Linked DNA regions of Homo sapiens: all the other regions are linked to region 3. The links come from fine-mapping of genetic effects on gene expression. A gene starts in region 3. Each other region holds a variant in brackets. All regions are shown on one strand. Distances are from middle to middle.

What was found. PIP is the estimated chance that this variant, and not a neighbour inherited with it, causes the effect.
Region 1: its variant is fine-mapped to the expression of TRIM3 in aorta (GTEx, PIP above 0.99).
Region 2: its variant is fine-mapped to the expression of TRIM3 in whole blood (TOPMed, PIP above 0.99).

The regions. Positions count from the first base shown.
Region 1 is chr11:6,437,659-6,445,836 of GRCh38, forward strand. HPX (hemopexin) reads right to left here and starts at 3,329. Exons shown (of 10, transcript NM_000613.3): 1 at 3,223-3,329; 2 at 3,014-3,072; 3 at 2,809-2,880; 4 at 2,507-2,628; 5 at 698-851. The coding sequence starts at 3,305. RefSeq lists an enhancer at 5,697-5,766. The variant TAA/T (reference allele first, on the strand shown) is at 4,366.
Region 2 is chr11:6,400,243-6,408,420 of GRCh38, forward strand. APBB1 (amyloid beta precursor protein binding family B member 1) reads right to left here. Exons shown (of 15, transcript NM_001164.5): 3 at 3,405-3,580; 4 at 3,246-3,302; 5 at 3,077-3,162; 6 at 2,903-2,966; 7 at 2,334-2,483; 8 at 1,840-1,967; 9 at 1,735-1,740; 10 at 1,332-1,446; 11 at 1,103-1,187; 12 at 747-830. Among named protein-coding and RNA genes, the nearest start is that of SMPD1, 14 kb to the left of the region's middle. RefSeq lists a silencer at 5,077-5,371. The variant A/G (reference allele first, on the strand shown) is at 3,898.
Region 3 is chr11:6,470,454-6,478,631 of GRCh38, forward strand. TRIM3 (tripartite motif containing 3) reads right to left here and starts at 3,488. Exons shown (of 12, transcript NM_033278.4): 1 at 3,338-3,488. It overlaps ARFIP2 (ARF interacting protein 2), which reads right to left. Exons shown (of 8, transcript NM_001376558.2): 6 at 7,588-7,745; 7 at 7,265-7,439; 8 at 6,066-6,815. The coding sequence ends at 6,660. RefSeq lists enhancers at 2,149-3,088, 3,089-4,027 and a silencer at 3,385-3,614.

The DNA of each region.
Region 1 (8,178 bases), 33 kb before region 3:
CCAATCAATCAACAGGCATTTGGTGAGACCGGGTTACGCCCTCCTTTGTGCTTTCTCTGGGTCCCAGGATGGGCCAGATAATGGTACTGACCACATGGAGCTCACAGCCATCAGAGAGATGGCTAAAGGAGGGTGATCATACACCAAAATTCAGCAGCAAAACACACAGGATCAGCTCAGCAAAGGCAGTGGGGAGAGTCTGGGAAAACTTCCCAGGGAAGATGATACTTAAAGTGAAATCTGAAGTAGGAATTAAAAGGCACACAAGGAGAGATGGAACCCCAGAGAGAGGAAAGATTCCAAAGCATGGAGCAAACTGAGTGTACAGAGAATAGCATAGGGTTTCTGGAGCTTAGTGTTAAGGTAAAAGTATAATAAAAGTCAAAGCTGAAGGGCCAATAGGGATTTGGCCATGGAGAGACTTGTATGTAAGACTAAAGAGGGTAGATTTGTCCTAAGGGTCATGGGGAACAATGAGGGACTATTCACACAGAATTACACACAGTTGCCTTCACCAGAATGACTTCCTCTCCTTCCCTCACGTGACCTCTAGACCATACGTGGCTTCTCTATTTCCCTTCCTTAAAAAGCCACATAGTGGCTCCACCACCACCATCACTACCACTATCACCATCACTACTGGCATCACTACCAACCCACCACTACTCCAGGTTCTTGGATTCCAGCCTGGACTGACCTTGGAAGAAGAGGACGCCTTCAGCTTGACATTCTCCACGGTGACATTCCACAGCTGCATCCAGTGGGGATGGGATTCCAGGAAATTCATCTTGGAGCAACTTTGGGTATCCTTTCTCCTTCTTTTCAGGAGGGTATACCCAGACTTTGTCCCCCTGCATTCAAAAGTACTCTCTTTTTGACTGTGCATCCCCAGATACTGCCACTCTGCATTTACACACATTTTTTATCTACTGTGCTTATACGATATCCTCCTGTGGCCCTACACATTCTCAGTCCATCTGTGGACAACAATGTGCTGTCCTTTTGCACATTACACACTCTCAGTTTGTGCAAATCCAGTCACTATTACTATAACACACATGCCTCTAGCTCTGTACCCAGACACTCCTGTGGCACATTTATCTGCAACACTATCAGTGTTGACAAACATATCCACAACTGTTCATCCTGCAATCACCCATACGTTATTTCTTCATTCATTTCTTCATTTATTTATTCATTCATTCATTCATCCAAGAAACAGTCACTGAATAACTACTATATGCCAGGCATTGTGAGAGGCACTGAGGATAACAAGACTCTGTCTTTCACTTCAGGAAGTTCACTGTACAAAAGCAGAAAGGACTCCTGCAATCCTAGCCATGCAACTACCAAGGTGTAGTGTAAAGAGTGCACTGAGAATATAGACAGAGTGCCTAAGTCTGCCTAGAGAAGTTGTGGAAGGTTTCACACCAAAGAGGAAGCATTGGGCCCAAGAGCTGAAAAATCAGCAGGAATTTTCCAGGTTGACAAGTGAGGAAAGGGTGTTACCAGCAGAGGGAGCAGCATGCAGAGCCCAAACATGAGGAAGCAGTGTGCTCCAACCTCATGTAGATTCGTATGGCTGGCACACAGTGAATGTGGCAGGGGAGGAGATAAACCTGAGAAGATAACCAAGGCCCAGATCATGAGACCCTGTGTGCACTTGGTTTGTAGTAATCAGGCACATTTTGGGGTCATTTACTGAAACAGGAAACACAGGAGGAAAGGTTGGTTTGTAAAGAAGATGCAAAGCTTAGTTTGGGGGATGCTGAATTTTAGGTGCCTGTAGAACATACAATTGGAAAGAGATGTCTGGAGCTCAGAAAGTAGATCTAGATCCAGTGTCCACAGCATAGATATTCCTCAGAGCCAAGGTGATGGTTGAGATCACTGAGGGAAGGTATATGGAAAGGCTAGGATGGATCCCCAAGGAACATTAGGGAACTGGTTGAGATAGAATGAGACATTTGAGAAGAGAGAGAAAAGAGGCAGGAGGGAAAACAAAGCCGACAGTCAGGACTTCCCCAACCACACAGCACCTTTGGCAAGGTAGGAAAAGGCACCCCTTCCTCTGAGCAGACACAGCCTGGGTCACATGGGACTTGGTGAGCACAGCAGACTGGATTTCATGCTCCACATGCTCTTCTAGCCAGGTGCCATTGTGTTGGGAACAACTTGCCTTGCCCTATGAAGAGGACTTGATACAGGGTCATGGAAGGCAAGGGAAGCAATTGCCAGAGAAAAAAAGGATGGCCAGCAGTGTGAGGTACAGCAGAGCGGTGTAGAACTAAGACTAGGACTGAAGAACAGCCACTGGATGGTGCACCTGCCAGGCCCACACGCATGCACACTCCCTTAGCCCAAGCTTTTACAGGAAAGGAGGGCACATGGGAAAGAAATCTGCTACCTATTGCTATGGGCTCCATGCCAAGGCCATTTGGGGGAAGGGTCCCCAGTGTCGATTCCAGCCCTTTCCAGCCTGGCCCTGATTTTGGCCCAGCAGTACCTTGATCAGAAAGACACTGTTGTGACCTTGACGGAATGCAGCATCCACAGGGCTGGGGAAATTCTTCCATCTCTCTGAGATTAACTCCCGGTCCCATTTGTGACTCTTCCACACAAACTCCCCTGAAAAAACCCACACTCACTGAGGGGCCCAGTGAGAAACCTTTGACCTACTGAGATAGCTTGAGAGAAGCTGTCAGTGATACCATCAGATAATTCCTAAGACCTCCCACAGACAGGGACACCCTTTGTGAAGGAGAGTAAGTCTAAGGTCCTAAACGCCCTAACCTCAGTCCCTCCTACCTTTAAAAAACAGCATGGTTCCATTGTCATCCAGGGTGGTAGCATCAAAGCTCCAGCCATCTGAGCAGCGTTCTGGGGTGGAGGTAGGGAGATGGCAAAGTAAAAAAAAAAAAAAAAAAAAAAAAAAAAAAAAAAAACCAGAAGGTGATAAAATGCAGAGACACAACCAGACAGATAAGACAGACTTAGGGAGTCAGGGCCTCACCAGTCACGTCTGGGTCTGGCTTGGTCTCGCCTTCAGCAACATTCCCATGGGCACTAGTCCTAGGGAGAACAAAATAGATATCTTGATCCATTGGGACCGATCCCTTTCCCATAGCCCCTGACCCCAAATTTGACCGAGGCCTAAAAACTGGCCCTACCTTACCCTAGCCCAGAACTCAATCCTTCGCTTCTAGTCCCAGCTTTACTCACGGAGGAAGAGGGGTGGCAATGGCCAGAGACCAGCATAGGCTCCACAACCCCAGTGCAACGGGTGCTCCCAGTACCCTAGCCATGCTGAGCTGCAGAGGCCACAGGACAGCTCTGGGTGACCAGTTGAACTCCCTATATAGAGTTGGCAGCAGCACCACCCCCACCTCCAACTCTACTGGGAATGTGCTGTCTCCCAGGACTAAGCCAATATTGGCTGATTACATCACTGCAAATAAGGTCAGGGTCTGGACAGAAATCTGAATCCAAGACTCCTTTTTCCCGGCAGCTGCCCCCCAACCCCCTTCAGCAATTTTCAAGCAGTAACTGGGCTACACTGCTGACGTCCAGCTGTGACTCTCACACTGGCAATGGGTCCAGGCATCCATAAGTCAGGGAAGTGAGTAGACTGAGGATCACCTTTTGTGATTGAGTTTATCTCCACAATGGGGGAGGTGAGAAAAGGAGGGAACTAATATTGCTGTGTACTGTGTCAAGCCCTGCTCTAAGGCAGCTAGAGACAGCAATACTTACTACTTTTAGTAACCACACACACAGATAAACTTACTTAGAAATACTCAGAGAACAGCTTTTTCCAAGCTTCATCAGGGGCCTTTCTGGGGCATGCCCAAGCCTCTTCAGCTTTACCCTTGGGCTAGTGAGTCTGGGGACAATAATGTCTCACTGTTGTCAAATGTCCAAGCCCCATGCCCAGCCTCTCGCCTTCCCTGACTGGCAAAGGGCTTTGCAAAAAGTGCCTGGAAGTGAAGGGTTGACAGTAATGAGGCAGAAACAGGAGGTGTCTCTCTTCCAGAGAGCACCACCACTACTAGTAATTAGTCTTTCTTGGTAGTTTCCACCTTGGGGGAAAAAGCTTTATTTAACCAACCCAGAACAAATAGAACTGTAACTGGAATTTCACAATATTTCTAGCTGACTCCTGCTTAAATGCTACCTTCTCAATGAAGCCTTTCTTGACCACCTTATCTAGCCATTTCAGACCCTTGCTTGTTTTATTTTACTTACTAAAACTTGAAATTCTTTCATCTGTCTACTTATCTGGTGATGGTTGTTGTTGCTTTGCTTTGTTTTGCCTGTCTTGTTTACCATTATATATCCCTGACTCCTAAAATAGTGCCTGGCATA[TAA/T]GAGTTGTTCCAGAAATATTTGTTGAATGAAAAAAATGCAAAAATGCATTTCAAGTACTGAGTAGTGTTGCTAGTGTTGCAGCCAAATTTCTGACAATTTCCCCCCCTCTAGGGTAGGAGAATATTAGGAATTGGGGGTAGGTTATGGTAGTAGGCATAATGAGATCTAGGAGTCACAGACGCCCTTTATCTGACAGTCCTGTTTCTCTCTCCAGTGTCTCGGCCCCACATCCATCTCTTCCTGGGATCTCACCTGCTATCCTCAGTACTTCCTGGGCCCACTCCCAAAGCTGCCCCATTTCTGTGTGAGATTTGCCTAGTGAGTCAGAAAAGAATTATGGGCAGACTCAGCTATGGGCCAGGATGAAGTTCCAGGACCCCTGCTCCCTAGCCAAGGCTGAAAGGGCCCTGATCCCTCACAGATGGCTCCAGACCCCTGACAGTCCCATATATAATCTTACCAAAAGTCTCAGATCCCTTTTCTACTCTGCGAAGTTTCCTTCCAACAGGAAAACACACATTCCGGAACCTCTGGAACAACATGTCACCAGGCCTCTGCCATCAGGCTCAATGTCCTCTCCTGACTTACGAATGAAAATGTGCTGTGAACATCATTCCCTCCTCATAGGTCAGTGGGCAAGGCTGGACTCTCTGAGTCCTTGGCAGCCTGGGCAATGCCATCGCTGCTACAGCCAATGTCTCATACTCACCTTCTCCCCATTGCAGGGCATGTCTTCTTTCTGGGTGTTGGGCAATGGGAGCCACTATTCTAAGACTCCCCCTCACCTTTTCTTTCCCTCTCAGCCTCTGAAACCTTATATTCTCCCTCCTGAGCACCCCATGATCCTCCATCAGGAATTTCCTCAACAACTTGTCTTCAGCTGTCAGAACCCTGTCTGAATCCTACAGATTTTGCTGGGCCTGCCTGGGGAGAGGGAAGCTTTCACCCCAAGAAACAAACACCCCACAGAAAACCCATAGTGAGAGTCTTCAATAGTCCTATTAGCAGGGCCTTGCACTGACTTGCCAGTCCAAGGGTGCAGTCTCCTTCTGGCCTAACAGGGCTGTCTGAGGGCATACAGCACATATACTGGATGATCATTTTTCAGCTTGACCCCTTCCCCACACACCTGGTGTGGTCCCCCTCACAGCACCCCGGATCCATCTATCCCAGAATACTACTTTATGGTCCCTTTTCCCTGTTGCTTCCTAATTCACCTGTGTACCCGAGAATGGCTTAGAAACCATTACTGGATCCTCCTGCTCCACCCAGGGACTAGGCCAGCAGAGTCATCTGCACTGCAGGCAGTCCAGGTTGAAGTTCAAGTTTTGGGCAGGAGTTGAAAGTAGAACATTGTACACATTTGGGAACCCAGGGCTGTGGATATGTTGGCCACCCTGGTGTTGGTCACAGGGTACAAGCCAAGACTTCTCAGGGTAGTCAAGACTCAGCAGCCTTGCTTCTCTTCCCCTCACTACAGGAGGCCCCTTCTGTGGGTCCTGGGTCCTTCCCAGGCTTCCTACTGGGGCTGAGGAAAGAAGCTTGTCGGTACTTGGGCCTGAGCACCCCCTGCAGGCCGCAGGAATCAGTGCACTCCCGCCCTTCAACTAGAGGCCAGAGCCCAGGAGTTTTTCCTCTCTGAAACTAGCTCTCCACAGCCTTTGTCCCACACTCCTCTCAGCCCTGGCTGTGCATCCTTAGTGGTACACACCCTTCTATGCTTCTTTCCCTTCTTCTGCAAACCTTGCTGCCCAGAGTGGATTTGGGGACCTCAATCTCTTGCTTCTCTGGGAACTCGAGCCCAGAGAAATTCAACCATCTCTTTTCCTGGGTAGTCTTCTCTATCCTCCTAACCAGCAGCTTTTTTACTTCTCCCAGAAGGGGTCTGAACACGAACCTGCAAATGTCTGCAAATGACAGAGCTTCCTCCTGCATTGCCAAGAGCCAGATGTAAGCTGGACACTGACCCACTGTCCCTTGGAATGGCTATGTCTATGTCCAGCCTGCTCTGCTGTTGATATGAGTTCTCTGACCTTAGCCATTTCTCCTGGGCCCACTGAGTGCTAGGTGTGCTGGGCCTGAAGTCTGTGGCTGTATACTCCAGGGAGCAGGAACTGAATGTCTCCTTTCCTCAGGGGTAGGAGGCTTAGGGATAAAGCTCCAGGCAGCCAAAGAGCTTGCTGATCCCAGCTGACCCCTCCTCTTGCTCAGTCTATAATGGGCCTTAGTGCTATATATATATATATATAGCATGTATATAGCACTTGCTATGGTTTGAATGTTTCTGTCCCCTCCGAATTGATGTGTTGGAAGCTTAATTCCCAATGTGCCAGTGTTTGGAGGTGCGGCCTCATGAGAGGTGTTTAGGTCATGAGAGCTCTGCCCGATGAATGGATTAATGCTGCTATAAAAAGGGCTTTCAGAAGTGGATTCTCTCTCCTCTGCTTTTCTGCCACGTGATGAACAGCATTTGTCTCCTCTAGAGGATGCAGCGTTCAAAATGCCATCATAGAAGCAGAGACCAGGACCTCACCACACACCAAACCTGCTGGGCACCTTAATCTTGGACTTCCCAGCCTCCAGAACTGTGAGAAATACATTTTTGTTCATTATAAATCATCAGTCATGGGCATTTTGTTATAGCAGCACAAACAGACAAAGGTAGCACTATGAGTCCCGTTTTATGAATGAGGAAGCCAATATTAGGTATCTTAGCCAAATCACATTGCTAGCAAGTGGCAGAGCCATGATTTAAACCCTGGGTGCCTGACTCCTAGGGGTGTGTTCCTACAAGGATAGTGTGTTCTTATCAAGGGGTTCGCTGGCAAATATTTAACAACTGCTCTCTAGGGGGAAAAAGCACTGATTTGTAACATTTGCAGATTTTTGTGATATAAATACTCCTACCATGGCCAACTTTAAGCTACCGACAAGACATCACCAAATGTAGAGTTGGGAAGGGATGTACAGTAACACACTGCATACAATATTCCTACCATACAGATATGATAGATATAAATAATCACAAGAGCACAGGGGATAGTAAAATGTAGTAAAATAATTAGGAAGTGATTACTTTTAAGTACTGATTATCTTTGGTTTTAATAGAATGTATTTAAGTTTATATAGTTTGATTTTTAATAATAGCTGTGTTTTAACAACCAGCTCTCAAAATTCTAAATTTGACAATCAGCTCTCATGAGCCAGCTCCAGCACCCCACAGTCTACCATGCTGCCTTTGTGTACAGGACAAGGATCCTACCTGCTTTAGTCACTGCTATATCTTCAGCACTGAGAACACGCCTGAAATACTGTATGTATTTAATAAATATTGAATCCTATTATTCCTACTTCCTAATTATACATAAAATCTGTCCATTTCTCTCTGCCTCTTTAGTAATGCAAACACCACCTTTTCTTGTGTGACCATTGAAATAGCTCCTCTACAACACATTCTTTATAACAACCACAGTGATCTTTAAAAACGTATCTGAGATCACCTTATGCTCCTGCTTAAAATTTTTTCTTGAAGTCAGTTGTAATTTTTTTTTTTTTTCTTTTTTTTTTGAGACAGAGTCTCACTCTGTCACCCAGGCTGGAGTGCAGTGGCGCGATCTCGGCTCACTGCAACCTCCGTCTCCTGGGTTCAAGTGATTCTCCTGCCTCAGCCTCTCGATTAGCTGGGACTACAGGCGCCTGCCACCACACCTGGCTCATTTTTTGCATTTTTAGTAGAAACAGGGTTTCACCGTGTTAGCCAGGATGGTCTTAATCTCCTGACCTTGTGATCTGTCCACCTTGGCCTCCCAA
Region 2 (8,178 bases), 70 kb before region 3:
AGAGTTAACCAGATCAGGCCAGGCACAGTGGCTCACGCCTGTAATCCCGGCACTCTCAGAGGCCGAGGCAGGTGGATCACTTGAGGTCAGGAGTTCAAGACCAGCCCTGGCCAACACAGTGAAACCCCGTCTCCACTAAACATACAAAAATTAACCAGGCGTGGTGGCGGGAGCCTGTAATCCCAGCTATTCAGGAGGCTAAGGCAGGAGAATTGCTTGAACCCAGGAGGCGGAGGTTGCAGTGAGCTAAGATCACGCCACCGCACTCCAGCCTGGCGGACAGAGCGAGACTTGTCTTTAAAAAAAAAAAAAAAAAAATTCTTTGCAACAATGAAGTATGTGACAATTATGCTCACTGTTTCCTTCTCCAGATGCTCCCAGCCCACAGCTGGTGCTGTAACACTAAACCCAGCTACAGGCTGCTGTCTGGTGTCCTCCAGTCATCTAACATCAGCCTCCCAATCCCACCAAAGCTTTTCCATGGGATGAAGGAGTGGGGTCTCCCTTTGTGCCTGGTTCAGCACCACTCACGTGGCTGATGCTCAGCGAAGGCGTGCTGACTGCTGCTATAGGCAGGACAGGAAATAGAGCTAGGACAGAAGTATGGGGAGGTGGGATGCATTTTAAAGGGTAGGGAGACACCAAGCATGAGGAAGGTCTGGTAGAAGAAGTATTGGAAGGCAGAGGGTAGGGGCAGAGTTTTAGGATCAAGGTAGCAGCCCCTGGGTATAGAAGGACACACATACCAACAGGTTTAGCAACAGGTACATTCCCCAGGTAATAGACTTGGAACTTCTGGACCAACTCATTCTTAGGCGCTGGGAATTCCACTATGGGAAAGAAGAGAAGGTTGATCATGGTGGCAGACCTTGCTCACCCGCAGCCCCACCAGCAGGGCATAAGCTGGACACTTGCCCAGCCGAGGCCCTACTTTCATCTCGTCCCCTGCCTCCCTTTAACCGGAGTCCCTCCACGTATTGGAGTATTCAGTCTTCATGTGTTCATTTTTCTATCAGCGCTGTCCAGGAGCTCATGCCTTTCCTTGGGTCACCCACCTTTGCCAACAAAGCTGAGCTGGACCTGGAGGGGTTTTGACACTGACCTTGGAAAGGGACATCCACAAGTTTAGAGTGGTCCAGGGAGAGTCCATTTACCAAGCAGCGGGCATTACGCCGTTCGGCCATGATCTGAGGAAGGAAGGGAGGCGAGGAGCCAGGGAGAATCTATTAGAGCCTCATTGCCCTGGGGCCCCCCTACAGCACTCAGTGACCCCACCCACACCCTTGTAGAGCAAAGGTGGCAACTAGTCCAGGGAGTGGAGGGGGCCGTGCCTTAGAGCAGATCTCATGCAGGCTGGTGGCGATGTTCTTGGCAGGTGCCTCACAGCGAAACACGTGGCACTTGAGCATCTGGGTCAGCTTATCACGAGCTACGTAGGCAAAGTCCCTGTTGGGGAAGGGGCACCTCAGTGTCTCCCAGTACCATCCAGTGCTGAGCCTGGTCCCCACCCCACCCACGTCCTCCCTGCCCATCACAGCTCCTCCAGGGCTTCTGCCCACAGCTGGTCCCCCATAGGTGCTGCCTTCTTGGGGGGGAGGGGTAGACAGGCAAGCATGCTGAGGTGGAGGGTAATGGTGGAGCATAGCGGGTGGGAAGGGGCAGGGCAGAAGAGGGGAGCTTGGGTGCTTCCAGGCATCTGGTCCAGGTGTAGGAGGGGGAAAATAGGCATAGTACCTCTCTCTGGGTCCAGCAGCACAAGAGAGGCAAATAACAGAGTTAGAGAGGAGGACTCTGATGCTGGATGAACTCCCACCCTCGAATCCCAAGCCCTATTCCCACCTTCCACTGTCCCGCCCGACGCCCCACACGCGGATGCTGATGATGGGTTGGGCGTGCAGCAGTGCCTGGCTCTGTGGCTCCACTAGCTTTAGTGTCTCATCCTCCAGCTGCAGTAGCAGATCCTTTCCCTGCAGGACCAGAAGCAGGCACTCAGTGGGACTCCAGCCAGGATGGTGGCTGATCTCTGACCCCTGCAGCTCAGGGGATGTTAGCCACAGCTCTGGGGCCCCTGCTTTGGTGTCAGACCGCCCGCCCTGCAGGCCTCACTCTAGTGGAGGTCACGTGTCATCTCTCACATTGACTCCACCGTTGTTAGGCGACTATCTCCCAAGGTCCTGGCCTGGGGTCGCTCATCCATCCCACAGGGCTGCCACTTAGGATGGGCCAATATCCCCCTTCCCCAGCCTGCTTGTGGGCAGGTCAGACCTCCCATCTCTCATAATTCCCTTCACACTCTCACAGTACCACCCCCTACCCCCGGCTCAGGTCCTTACTTCCCCCCAGCCCCCAGACATGGGGTCATGCAGGTTGTTTTTGTGGTAAGAGAGCTGACGGATGCAATTGTTGACTGCCACACTGCTGCGTCCAGGGGCCAGCTCCTCCTCGGTCATCTCTACCCAGCCTAGGGAGCGCACGGCGAAACACTGCCAGACACAGAAGAGGGGCAGGAGGTAGAGGATCTGAGTCAAAACTGGAGAGTTCCTGACTACAGAGTGTGGCAGGAGGCAGGGTGTTCTGAACTAAGACGGAGAAGCTCCCCAAACAGGATGTGGTTAGGGAGAGGGGGATGTGGTTAGGGTGAGGGAGATGTCAGATGAGACCCCAGCTAGTACAAAAAAGCACCTGAACTAAGACTACAAGGGCCCCCAACCTGGCTGTTGGGCTGGTTGATTTAAAAACTGAAGTGCCTCCAGCTCAGACACAGGGCTCTGTGCTGAGACTGGAAGAACTCCTAACTCAGGACCTGGGGAACTGCGCTGAGACCCCTCAGAGCACAACATTAGGGGCTGTCTGACAAATAAGAGGGCCCCAGACTCAGAATGGGTGTCAGTCTTGAACAAACCTTGATCCCTGGGTTGGTATTCCGTGGGGGAAGCTTCTCCTCCTCTTGGGGCAACGGCTCTGGGCTGAAGGCAGATGGTAATACTTGGCACAGGGCTCCCATAAATGGAGCTGTCCCAAGGCCCCTTCCAGACAGATCCATCCCACTGCCAGCTCACTGCATCTGGCAGCTCACCTGAGGCTCTGAGCTGGGAAGGTCAACGTCCCCTCCTCAGGTTCCTTCAGTCCCAGCTCCATTGGGGCCTCATCACTGGGTTCATCCTTGGGAAGGGGATTGAGGAATCAGTATCAAAATGATGCCCCTCCTCCAGCTATCCCGTGGTAAAGCAGGTCCCCTTACCCACCTTCCAAAATTCTCCATCCTCAAAGCCTTCTCCATGAGCAAAACCTGTCCAGGTGAGCTAGGAGGAGGGATGGGAGTAGTGAGTGAGTGTCCTATCCTACTCCAGCAGCACACACTCCCTCCACCCCTGGCCCAAAATCAACAGGCCTGTGAGCCTCACCTGGGACTCCTCTTGGGGGCTGCTCCCCTGTGAGGGGGAGGCCCGGCCGGGGGGTTCCCACTGGGTGGTCCCTGTTGGGATGTGCCAGTAATAGGTCCCTGAGGTGTCCTGGACCCTCATCCATCCAGCCGGCAGGTCGGAATCCGTCTCGAAGGCGTTGGGGTTCCAGAAGGAATCTGCCAGGTGGGAGGCTTGGTGAGGGTCAGCCTACCCAAAGAGCAGACAGCTGGTGCCTATGCCCGGTCCCCTCTGAGACCCCATGGTTGAGAAGGGGTGGTGGAAGAGCTATACCACAACACAGTTCCTGCTTCTGCCTAGAGCCTATAGTCTGGAGTCACCACATGTGGGGCCACCAGTAGGGGACATGGCTCAGGTCTCCTCCTGGGCCCTGTTGGTGGCTAATGTGGCCACACTGTGGAAAGGAGGAAGGCAGGGAGGGAAGAAGGAAGGGAGCAATGAATGTTGGGTGACCCCAATTAACCTCCTTTCATAC[A/G]TATCTATTATCTCAGTTAACACGAAGGTGAACACTTTCTAGCTCCTGCACACGTACATGTATACACAGACACACAACACATACAAGCCCTACCACACACCTGTGCAGCCACAAACACCAGGGTATGCAACACAGAAAATGCCAGCACAGATGGCAGGTATCACACACAGGTGCACATGTATGTGCAGGGGCACACACACACAAACTTTAGCCATACACTTATGCAGACACCACAGAGGTGTGTGTGCATGCAGCTAAACATACGAGCCCCTGCCACACAGGTGTGCAGATACCACACCACAATGGCCCCAACACACGTGTGGGTACCACACACACAGGCGGACCCACACTCAGACACACGGCACACGTCAAACCCTGCCAAATGTGTGCAGACACCACAGACGCTCACTTCCTGACCCTTGCTGCACACAGATGCAAGCAAACATGTCATGCACATACACACATACCTCGCATCTGTGTCATACACCCTTGTCTGCCGGCAGAGCCACACCACTCCAACCCTGTAACCCGCTCATGCGTCCTCTAACTCTTCTCTCCCTGTCAGCCCCACCCCACATGAGGCCCAACCTCATGCTGCCCCTCACCTGCGCTGCTGTCCTGCAGGATAATGGCCAGGAAAAAGTCCTGGGAGAACATGGCGCTCATTCCCGGCCCCTCCTGCCTCCACCCTCCCTCCTCACAGCCCCTCCAGCCCAGCCAGCTGGGCTCACAGCCTGGTGCTGGGCTGCAGAGAAAAGCTCATCCCGCCCCCTTCTCACCAGGGCAGAGCGTCTGCCAGGCAAGATCCTCCCCCGCTTGGAGCTTGCTAGGGAGGGGCCAGGACCACCATGCTAGGGAATCTCCTTGGGGGGTGGGGAAGGGAGGAGAAAGGGAGGTTCATGAGACCCCAGCCCCTTCTGCTCACACCTCTTCTTCCTCGCCCTGGCTCCCCTCCCCCAATCCTGAATCTCCATCCCACCCTCCAGTGGTTACCTCAGTGCCTAAGCCAAGCCCAGTCTTAGGGATACCAGGAGACTCAGCCCCTAAGGAATACCCCAGCTGCCTGGGGCCCTGCAGAGCCTATAGCTGTCAGCATAAATAGGGTGTGGTTTCAAGGCCTTCAGGGATCCCGCCCCTGTCCAGGACCTGCACAGCAGTTTGAACCCAAGGGTGGGCTTTGAGGTCCTGAGCCCCAGCAAGCTTGAGGCTGGGCTTGGGGCTTCCCAGCACCACCCCCCACCCCTCACCTGCCAGGGCCCAGCTAGGCTGCAGCGTCTCCTCGGCAACCGCAGCACCAGGACCGGCTGGGAGCGCCCAGACTGCTGACGTGCTTCCCGTTACCAGGGAAACCAGGAATCCTGACTGGTCCAAGAGGCAGTACTAAGGGACAGGCAGTCCCAAGACCCTGCTGCTGGGCAACCAGACACAGCAGGGCTGGGAGTGGGCGTGGTTACGCCAAGGTGGCTGCACACCTGACGAGAGTTATTCAGGCAGGGTGCTTCACCATCCTCAGCTTCCAAATGACGTGGGCCCACAGACACCCAAAGAGGAGGGGCTCTTGCCCATCCACCTTCTAGGCAGCCATCACCGCCTCTCCTCACCCCCACTTCCCCCTAACTCACACTCTATGGAATAAGGTTTTCAATAGGCACCTGAAACTTAGCTGAGGCTCAGGGAATACCTGCTGTTCCCTAGAGACCCTCCATTGCCTCAGGACTCTCCTGCTAAAACCTTCCAGGAACAGCACCCTAGGGCCTCCATGCCCTCCACAGCCACAGCCTGCTTCATGAGGGCTGGCTGGACACTTCTGGAATCTGGGGACCAGTTCACCATCTCCTGACTGAGTCACACACACCAATCCATCTGCCATCCCTGTCAGCCTGTACCTTCCTGCTTCAAAGAGCTTCATCCTTCCGATCTGTCCTGGAAGGGCAGTTTCTCCCCCCTTGGCCATCTGGGAGGCCCTTCTGGAGCTTGGCACATCTCCCTCCAAGCGCAGCCCACCCCGGCCTTTGCTTTCACACACATGCATTTATTCCAGAACGCACACCTTCACTCCTGCATCGATTCATGCGACACTTACATATAAAATACATTAAATGTTCACGTATCATTCCTTCCTTCCTTCATTCGTTCATCCACAAATGCCTTAGTGGTGAAGCCAGGTGTACTCACTTGCTCAGGAATCAGTGATTGACTTAAAGCTTTCCCCTTCTCTCCACCCCACATAACTAACATAGCCCAGGCTACTAGCTTTTTTTTTTTTAACCTGCATCATTGCAAAAACATCATAACTGGTCTTTCTCTTCCTATCTGGTCTCCTCCAATCTCAGCTGCACAGTACAGCCCAAATGATTCTTCTGAGATGCTAAACTAATCAAGTAATTTTCCAACGGAATCCTCTTAATTGTTTTGTCACTGCCCTCAGGATAAAGTCCAAATTCCTCCCCAGGTTTTATGTGCTGTCATGAACCCCTGTCTGCCTCTCAGCCTTACCTCCAGCCACTCCCCTTCTCTCTCTTTGCTTGGGACATGCCCCCTTGTCCTCTCCCAGCCCACCTCCCTTACTCTCGATTTTCACCTGGCTATCACCTACCTCTCCTTCAGACATCAGTATACAGGTCCCTTCTTAAAACTGACCCATTGCCCTCTCCCCCACCACTCTCACAGGCAGGGTCAGGGGCCCCTCCTGTACTTCCCCAGCCCCAGAGAGCTCATCGCACTGATCATAACCACTTGTTTCTTTCTTTGTCTCCTCACCAGGCTGTGAAGGCCAGGAGGTAAGAACATCTTTGCCCCATAGTATACATTTCCAGCATTTACGATAAGGCCTGGAGCAGAGTATGAATTCAATACAGGTAGTAAAGTTTATTCATTCATCATTCATTTAATTCATGAATTCATGCATTTATGCATTCAATCCATAGCTCTATGAATATCCTACAATAGGAAGGAGAATATAATTTTTGCTCAATTCTAGCCTCATTTCTGCAGGAGCACAAACCTTCTCTGCAGCCCTCATGGTCATAGCAACACAGTTGTAAAAGAGTGACTTGGCCCCTTTCCTGGGCTGGCCCCCACCTCTATCCTCAATTCACAATGTCTCCACCAGTGCATGATCCTTGAGAATCCTCTTGCCACTCCAACATCCTTGCTGAGGTCACTGCCCAGCAAACCCGCCCCAGCTCTTCAGCAGTACTATCCCCCTACTCCTAGAAGCTTCATAGGTAGTTCAGAGTTGCAGCCCCCACAGTGACCATCCCAGGGGCAAGTGAGCAACTAGGCCTCTATTTGGTCACTGACTCACACCCCCTAGTCTTGCAAACTTCCAACCTACAACCTGCAGACTGATGCAAGCCTCAGATAGATTGTGTGTGGCCTGCACAGTGCTTTTTAAAAAATAGAATTTGTTGTTAACGTTTAGAAATTGGGCTATTTTACACCAATATCTAGTTTTCAGTTTCCCTTTAACTGGCTGCATTGAGACTATATTTTTCCTCACCCCAATCCCAAAAATAATCAGCTGGAGTGCAGGAGGGGCTGTTCCTTTTAAAAGGAGTTGAGACAATGACCACCAAAGGCCACTAACATCACAAAAAAGAGAGGCAATCAGACTTTGCCTTTAGTAGAAGTATTTTTTTTTTTTTTTTTGAGACGGAGTCTCGCTCTGTCGCCCGGGCCGGACTGCGGACTGCAGTGGCGCAATCTCGGCTCACTGCAAGCTCCGCTTCCCGGGTTCACGCCATTCTCCTGCCTCAGCCTCCCGAGTAGCTGGGACTACAGGCGCCCGCCACCGCGCCCGGCTAATTTTTTGTATTTTTAGTAGAGACGGGGTTTCACCTTGTTAGCCAGTATGGTCTCGATCTCCTGACCTCATGATCCACCCGCCTCGGCCTCCCAAAGTGCTGGGATTACAGGCGTGAGCCACCGCGCCCGGCCTAGTAGAAGTATTTAATACCACCTATGAAATATTCTTGCAAAAGCAAAACACAAAAATGCTCAAATCTGAATCTGATCAAGGCTCTAGAACTAACTACCAATTTACAGGAAATCCAGGGGAAGAGGAGCATGGTAAATATGACCACAGGAGAGAGTCTGAAAAATCCAAACCATAGAAAACTCAGGACAAGCAACATGATTCTCCAGTTAAAAAACAAAAGCAAAACTGCAAACAACAACAACGAAAAAAATAGAAGGGGAACTTGATCAAACATAACTTTAACAGATAGATCAGGCCAGACATGGTTGCTCACACCTGTAAGCCTAGTGCTTTGGGAAGCC
Region 3 (8,178 bases):
AATGTGGTGTTATGATCATAGCTCACTGTAGCCTCAAACTCCTGGGCTCAACTAATCCTCCTGCCTTGGCCTGCCAAAGCGTGGGGGTTGCAGGCATGAGCCACAGCACCCAGCTAGAGTTCACTGTTTAATGTGATGAATCTGAGGTGCCTATGGGATGTAATTCAAGTGGAGAGGTCCAGTTGGCAGTTGGAAAGATACGCTGAAGCCTAAGAGAGAGGTCTGGCCTGGAGACATGAATGTGGATGTTGGTGCAGAGATGGTTCCTGAAGCCATGGGCGTGGATGACATTACCCTGAGAGGGTAAAGAGAGAAAGGAGGGTCTATCACCAAGTCCCAAGGAACCTCAATATTTAAGAGATAGGCCCAGGAAGCAGAGTCTGCAAAGAAGATTGAGAAGGCACAACCAGAGAAGCAAGAGAATCAGGAAACAGATGTCATGAATGCCAAGGGAGAAGAGAACTTCATGAACAAGGGAGTGAAATGCTGCAGAGGTCCCATTATTTAAGCCCCAAAGAGGCTTTCATTAACCTCAGAGCATGTGGTTTTCAGGGGATGGAGGACAGGAAGCCAGATGCAGGGAGTCAAGCAAGAAGCTGATTGTGAACAAATGAAGACAGCCAGTGCTGACTCCACTAGATCCTGGACATCTGCAAAGGATGTGTTTCAAGGCTTTTCAGTTTCTCCAAATTCTCAAATAGCATTAATTTTCCCCAGGACTTCCTCCTACAATCTCACAGGATTCCCAGTACACATGAGTTACACAGTTGTGAATGGAGGTAACCAAGGCATTGTTGAAAATGGATGCGAGAGGTCAGCTAGGCTCATTTGCTTGCTAAAATAACTCACGTCTACTCACTAGCTTCCAGGTTTATCTGATCATTTGAGACCTCAAAAAAATGACAAATGACTGCAGGTTACAGTCTTTGGGCTTTCTCTGAAACAAATGAAGCCTTGGATGAGGCAAAGTCCTTAAAGCCAATGAATCCTTTAAATAAGATTAGCAGGGAAGGAAAGCAATGAAATTCATGGCCATCTCCCCCAACATTGCCAGACTGAGTAAAGTGAATGAACCATTCAATCAAACTTCTCTGGGCACACTGTGGGCCAGGTCCTTCAGCTGTGAAATAGAGACACAAAGCTGAATCAGACACACTCCCTGTCTTTCACAAGTTTTTAGACTAATGTGAGAAACAGAAATGGAAACACGTAACTACAATGTGATAAGTACCATGATATTGACATGTTCAAATTGCTACAGCAGCAAACTGGAGGAAGTACCTAACTCTGAGGATGGTACAGAATAAAGAAGGCTTCCAGAGGAAGGGGTATTTGAGCTGGGTCTTGAGAGACAAATAGGACATTGATACGTACATTGGGAAAACAGTGAGTAAAGAAACAGAAACATGAGAAACTAAGAAATATGGAACAGATGGACAAGATTGCAAATCTCCAAAAGGCAGAGGTTATACATGATGCTTTTACATCCTAAAAGCATAAAAATAAATATGCTAAAAATAAATAAATCTAAATAAATAAATAAATAAAAGGCACCACCACTCACCCACCCACACAAGCGAGAACCCTGGTAGTCTTCTCAATTACACCTTTTCTTTCACCTTTCAGATACAAGCTATGACTACATCCTCAATTCTGCCTCTGAAATTTGGCTAGGTTTAAAAAGTTAGGAGATCTAGGATCTAGTCCTAATGCTGTAACTAACTCCACTAACACAAGGTGAAACTCTAGGTAAGTTCCAACCCCATTCCCTTATTTGTAAATTGGGAGAAGAGGGATGTTTTCTCAAAATCTGAGATTCCCAAGGTTCCCTCTCAAGCCAAGGGCTTCCACAGATTGTACCATGAGCCCATGATTAAATCCCATCTTGTACTACCTCGATGATTTGACTTCTAGTTTCCACTGTTAGGCTAAATGTGTTAGAGGATGGTCTTAGTTGCCTCCCCTCCACACTCCCCCTGCCCCCTCGCCCCCGTAAATAAATGTTTGCTGAGTTTTAAGTCACCTGTGACACTCTATGAACGCTCTCTATTCTAACCATATGGTTTTTCTGCTTTTCTGAACCTGGGCTATACTATCCCAACGATGGACTCTTTGCTCAAGTTCTCTCGGCAAGAATGCCATTGTCTCCTAAGTGGCTGTGGCAGTACCTGGCACACAGGAAGTACTCAGTATATGTTGGTTACAGGAGAGCTCTGTTTAAATCTCTGCAGTTCCCTTTCATCAGAGAGAGATGCAAAAGTAATGGCAGTAACAAGACAAGTGAATAAAGTCCCAAGAAGAGAGACCTCTGCTTAATATAAGGAAGCTTTTCCACAGCAGAAAGTAGCAAGTGCTCTGTCACTGGAGGCATACAAGCCCAAGGAGGCAGGGCTACTGTCAGGCCTGCAGCTCTGATTCCAATTCTGCAGCAAATCATCCCCTGCTTAGGGGATGAATGGGCACCAGTGAGCTAGACAGACTGGCCAAGGGAGACCTGTGATGTTTTCTGCACCTGCTGTGACCTCCCAGATGTGATCTTCCTGCTAGGGCCAGTCCTGAGTTTCTGTTGTCCACATCAGAGAACCCCCACACCAAGAACAAGCCCAGGGCCTGCCCTCAGTCGAACTGACCTCCCTGGGGTGCAGCCTGCCCCTCCAACCTGCAACCATCTGTCCCTGCAGGTTTGCAGCCCAGGATCTGAAGCCAATTGCAGAAGGGAGGAGGTCAGAACCAGGGAGGGGCCTGGGGTCCTCCAGGCAGGGCTCAGGCTACAGGAGAACCAGAGGGGTCCTTTCCTACAAAAAAACAGCCTCCACATGAGGCTTTCTGTCCACAGAGCAGTGCATGGGGAGGAAAGGGTGTCCTCCATCCTGACTGGTGGGCCTGTGGGTACCAGAGGATGGAAGGGGCGGGGGGTGGGGTAGGGTGGGGGTGGGGGAGCAAGGGGTGGAGGTGTCTGCACCAGGGAGAAAAGAGCCCTTCAGACAAGATGGGCCACAATATTCCAGAGTCCCACTCAGCACGCACCACCACCACCACCCTCGGCCGCAGCGTTCAGCACCCTCCGCCAACACACACAAGCTCCCAAACCCCGCGCTCCCCTAAGGAACCATCACCCATCCACCCGCGCCTCCCCGCCTCAAAACAGGGACCTCACGTGAGCAGCCACAGCCCGAAGAATCCCCCTGCTGCTCTCACGGACATGGACACGCCTCACGTGGGCAGAGAGAGGCACAGCTTTTGAAAATCATCTGTGCCCCCACCCACAGACGCTCCGACCCAGACCCGGGCTGACAGGAATACAAACGCACCCTTGGGGCCCGCCCGTCGCACTCACCGCGTTGGAACAGGATGCGAGGGCAAAGCTCGGACTGCGGCCACTCTGAAGGGCCCGCGGCGCTGCTACTGCTGCCAGCGCCCGTCCGCCCGGCCCTGCCCGCGCCTCCGCCTGTCCCCGCGCCGGCGCCGCCGCCGGACTAGCCGCACAGGCCGGAGGGAGGGGCCGGGGCGGGGCTGCGGACCGGCCGGGGGAGGGGGTGACTCCAGTAGGGAAGACCCACCCACGCCCCGCCCGCCGCCGCGGAGGCCCCGCCCACCCCGCCTGCCCACCCCTACCGCACCCGCACGCCCCCCCGCCAACGCCTCCACCTCCTGCGGACGCTGCCTCCTTGGTGCTGCTAGGGAGCCGGCGGGCCGGCGAGCCGGATCCCGGATCTCGGATCCCGGATCTCCGCCAGCTGCCTCCGGCTCCGGGAAGGGCGGTGTAGTCGGTCTCAGGGATTGAGATGAGACTCCGTCAAGAAAAGGCAGCTGGGGCAGCAGGGATTTCGGACTCTGGGAGCCTGTCTGGGCCGCCTGCCTCCTGGAGGCGCCCTTTCCGGCTTCCTTGGAGTGCTCCTATGGAATATGCTAGTCTATCGGCTGACCAGGAAGACGTAGAAACCGTCTGTACCTCAGCACGATCTCTGGGCGGCAGAAGGGCAGTACCCAGAACTCTGGGAGAAGGAGTTAAGGGGTAGAAAGGTGGGGGATTTGATTAGGCTTTGGGCGCTTCAGGAGCCCCCTCCTGAGGAAATTCTGGTTCAGACCATCCAGCGACTCCCTTCCTCACACCAAAGACACTGGACAATTCTCAGAATCATCGCCTTGTGCAAAAAGCAGCCCCAAGTGGAAAATAATTGTAACAGTTTACAGGGACTGAGTGGTTATTATGTGCCGACACAGAACTAGCCACTTTACATATATTATTTAATAGTCAGTAGGTAGCATCTTTTATTAGCCCAATTTTACAATGGGAAAAAATAGGGATCTTGCTCCCCAGACGTTAGCCCTCATCACTCAGCTAGAAAGTGGCAGAACCTGGAGTTGAGCCCTGTTTTTAGGCCCTACAACCAGCATTTGGAGACTCGGTACCTTTCATGTTGAAAAATCCCCAGTGGCCCATTAAGTGGCAGCTCATATAAGGACCACCTTCCCTGCCCCAAAAATCAAGCTCTAGTCAGATGATTGCAGGCTGATCAAAGCCCAGAAGACTGTCTGGGAGCTGCAGTATCCATGACAAAGGGCAAAGTCATGCCTGTGAGGATCCCTGCACTATGGGAATCTGCTGAGTGGGTCTTCCCCTTCCTCCAGCCTTCCAGAGGTGGGGAAAATCCTGAAAAATTCTGGTTTCCTTGGCCAAAGGGCATACAGGTGATGACACCTAGCCCTGACTAAACCAAAGTGCTGTTAGGGATCTTTCTTGTGACCTCTCCACAAGGTTCAGATTTAGGCTCAACACCTGGGTGCAGCAGGAGCTTTGGGAACCGCCTCAACCTCTTATCCACCTGAGTTCAGCACATAGCACAAGATGCTCCAGTGCTTGTGAAGGAAACCCAGACGGGGATCATGCTTGCAGTTTTGGGCTGGGGCTACTATGCTACCCAAGATGAGGGAACTGGAGTCTAGATGACACTATCTTAAGCCTCAGAGGACTACTTTTCTCAACTCTATACTTCTCCCATGCAGTCAAATTTCTGCTTAAAACACTTCTCAGCTCCTTCTCCAGAGGGCAAAAGTCCTTAACCAGCCTGCAGTCTTCATCTAGCCACTCCCTCTTCATTTTTCATTCCAAGCAATTCCTCCCAGTTCCTACTCAGAGCCTTCATTATATGCTAGCCTCTCTGCCTGGGATGCTCTTCCCTTTACCCTGCCTGTTTGTCATCTACTCACCCTTCAGGTCTCAGCTTTTTTTTTTTTTTTTTTGAGATGGAGTCCCGCTCTGTTGCCCAGGCTGGAGTGCAGTGGCGCAATCTTGGCTCCACTGCAAGCTCCGCCTCCCGGGTTCACACCATTCTCCTGCCTCAGCCTCCCGAGTAGCTGGGACTACAGGACTACAGGCGCCAGCCACCGTGCCGGGCTAATTTTCTTGCATTTTTAGTAGAGATGGGTTTTCACCGTGTTAGCCAGGATGGTCTTGATCTCCTGACCTGGTGATCCGCCCGCCTCGGCCTCCCAAAGTGCTGGGATTACAGGAGTGAGCCACCGCACCTGGCCAGGTCTCAGCTTTCAAACTGACATCCCCATTTCCACCCCAGTCCATGCCAGATGCCCCTCCTTTGTGCTCCCACAGCGCCCTCTGTACTTCTGTATCCTAATACTTATCACTGTTTTGTAGTTGCCTGGTTACTTCTTTCCCTCAGTAGGCCCTAAGCACTGTGGGCAGGGACCGTGTTTTATTCACTGATGTTTCCCCAGGGCCTAACGCAGTCCCTGGCAAATGAAAGCACTCAGTAAATATTTGCTGTATGAATGAATGCATGATGAAGGTCAGCAAACCCAACCCCCTCTGGATCTGGTGCTCTTAAGATCCATAGCTATCTTGGTGCTGGCTAAAGGACAAAGCTTTGGCTCCAACTGAGGCTGGGAGAGAAGACTGGGCCTTCAAACCATCTCTGAAACCTGTGACTTCAGCTGCCTGGCCCCAGCTCTTTTGACTTGATAGGGTTCTGGTGTTTGATTAGACTGAGCTTGTCTCCACCCAGGCCACCCTCCTAGAGTCCCCGACAAATTGACCTCGCTGGGCCTGCTTTTATGAAAGGTTTATTCCTAGTGCTAGATCCCAATCTTCTTGGGCTCTAAGCACAATTAAACTGGGTGGGTGGGTGAGGGTAGGCCTATTCAGATGCAAGGCCAGCAATGGGGCTCCCCATTATCCCCACCCCTTTGGTCCCAGTCCCCTTCTCTGCAATGGGCACGCATAGAGGAGAGACAAAGGGTATTAGACGCAACATCATTGGCCCAGGGGAGTCCGAGAAGAGCTGCCATTGGCTGACAGGGCATTTTCAGGCTCTGTCATTGGTCAGGGAGCACACCCCAGCCTGAAGAGTGATGCCATTGGCCAGGGAGTGGTTTTGTCATAGCCGTTGGCTGTGAAGTGGAAGGAAAAGATCTGGGAATGAAGCCCTGTGGCCAGGAAGATAGACAGGGCAGCAACTTCTGGGCCTCCAGGCCCTCTTCCCACCATAGCAATGTGGGCAAAACTGGTGTCAGGCCCCAGCCAGAAAAAGGAGCCCAAGCCAGAGGGCAAGTGACAAAGGATGTACCATGTCCAATCTCCCACACCCTGGGGCTGCCCTTCCCAATGTCTTTCTTGATAGCCAAGTTGGGCTGGGAGCAGCTCACTGCTCCTCTAGCCAGGAGGGTTTCTCAGCTCCTGGAGGCCGCAGCTTGATGTTGAACTGCTGCAGGGTCTGCTCCAGCTGTTTCTGGTTCCCAGCAAAGTAGGCGGACACAGCATTGTGGAAGAGCAGCAGCTGCTTGTGCATCACCTTGATCTGGGGGTCCAGCAGGGTCAGCTAAGGCTGGACTCAGGCGCCCTTCTTGAGGGTCTATGAGCCTGAGCCCAGGCACAGACCAGGGGCACAAGGACTCTGCTCTGATGGTGCTTTTGGGGTAGGGGCTGAACTCTACCCAGGGAGTCAAAGGAGAAGGGTCAGTATGATGGAAGAAACCTCACTGGATTTGTGGGCCTAGGGTTTTTGTACCCCAGCTCAGGGGGTGATTTTTCCCAGTTATGTTCCTGGGACCAGCAGCCAAATCCTCCAACAGGAAAGGGCCAGGAATTGGAGGGAGGGTGATCTGGAAAGGCCCAGGGGTTGAGGGGGTGAACACTCTACTCCCCAGCTAGGCTGCATTTCCTCATTCAATAATGGGGAGGGTCTGAGGGGAAGGTTAGTGTTACAGATGGAAAGGTGGGCTAGGGTCAAGGGGGTGGGGTTGGCACCTTGTTTTCTTCCAGGAACTTGAGCTTGATGGCCACATCTCCCCGCAGCTTCTCATACTTGTCCCGATGGGCCTGGAAAGTGGCCTGGGCACTCTCAAGTCGACCACGTGTCCCTGCATCCCGGGGGCCTAGACTCAGCTCCTCTAAGTCTGTTCGGTAGGCATCATATTCCAGCCTGGGGAGGGGGTGATAAAGGCTGGTCTCCACTCCTTTATCCTCAACACATACTCTCCTTTCCTTCCTGAATTCTTATGCCCCTAATGCCCAAATTTCCACCCATACCAGCCAACTCCCCAAACCCTAAGCCCTGCCAGTGCCCACACCTGGCAGCCTCATACTGTTTCACAGTCATGAGCGTGTCTTCCATGGTCTTGGTGACCAATGTGTTGATGCTAGAGACAAAGAAGTTCACGGCTCCTAGCAGCGTTTCCCCATTCTTGCATAGTAGTTTCTGTGTCTCTGCATTGTAGCCAAATTCCTCCTGAGGGCAGAAGGGAGGAACAGACCTTGAATAACACTCCCTACCTGACTGAAGCTGTAGAGCCCTTCATTCCCCTCCTCCCCGGGGAGGACACAGCCAGCAAAACTGGAACAACCAAGGACTGCCTCCAGCAAGGCTCTCTTAGCCGGAAAGTTAGTGGGATCACCCTGGGGATACCTGGGGTAGGAATGTGGGTGGTGGGCATTCTTGGGTAAGTTCACAAGACTGGAACAGTCTGAGAGCTAGTGTGGCAAGCAGGGGAGGGGCTCTGATTAGGCTGAGCACGAAGGCATTCTCCCCAGTGCAGAGAGGGGTTATTTGTGAGGCACCTAGTGTGCCCCCTCCCCCACCCCCTCCAACTTCTGGACCTCTGTACAAACCCTTAGGCTGCCTCCACAGGTGAGTGCTGCTGGGGGTAGGGCTGGGCCCACCC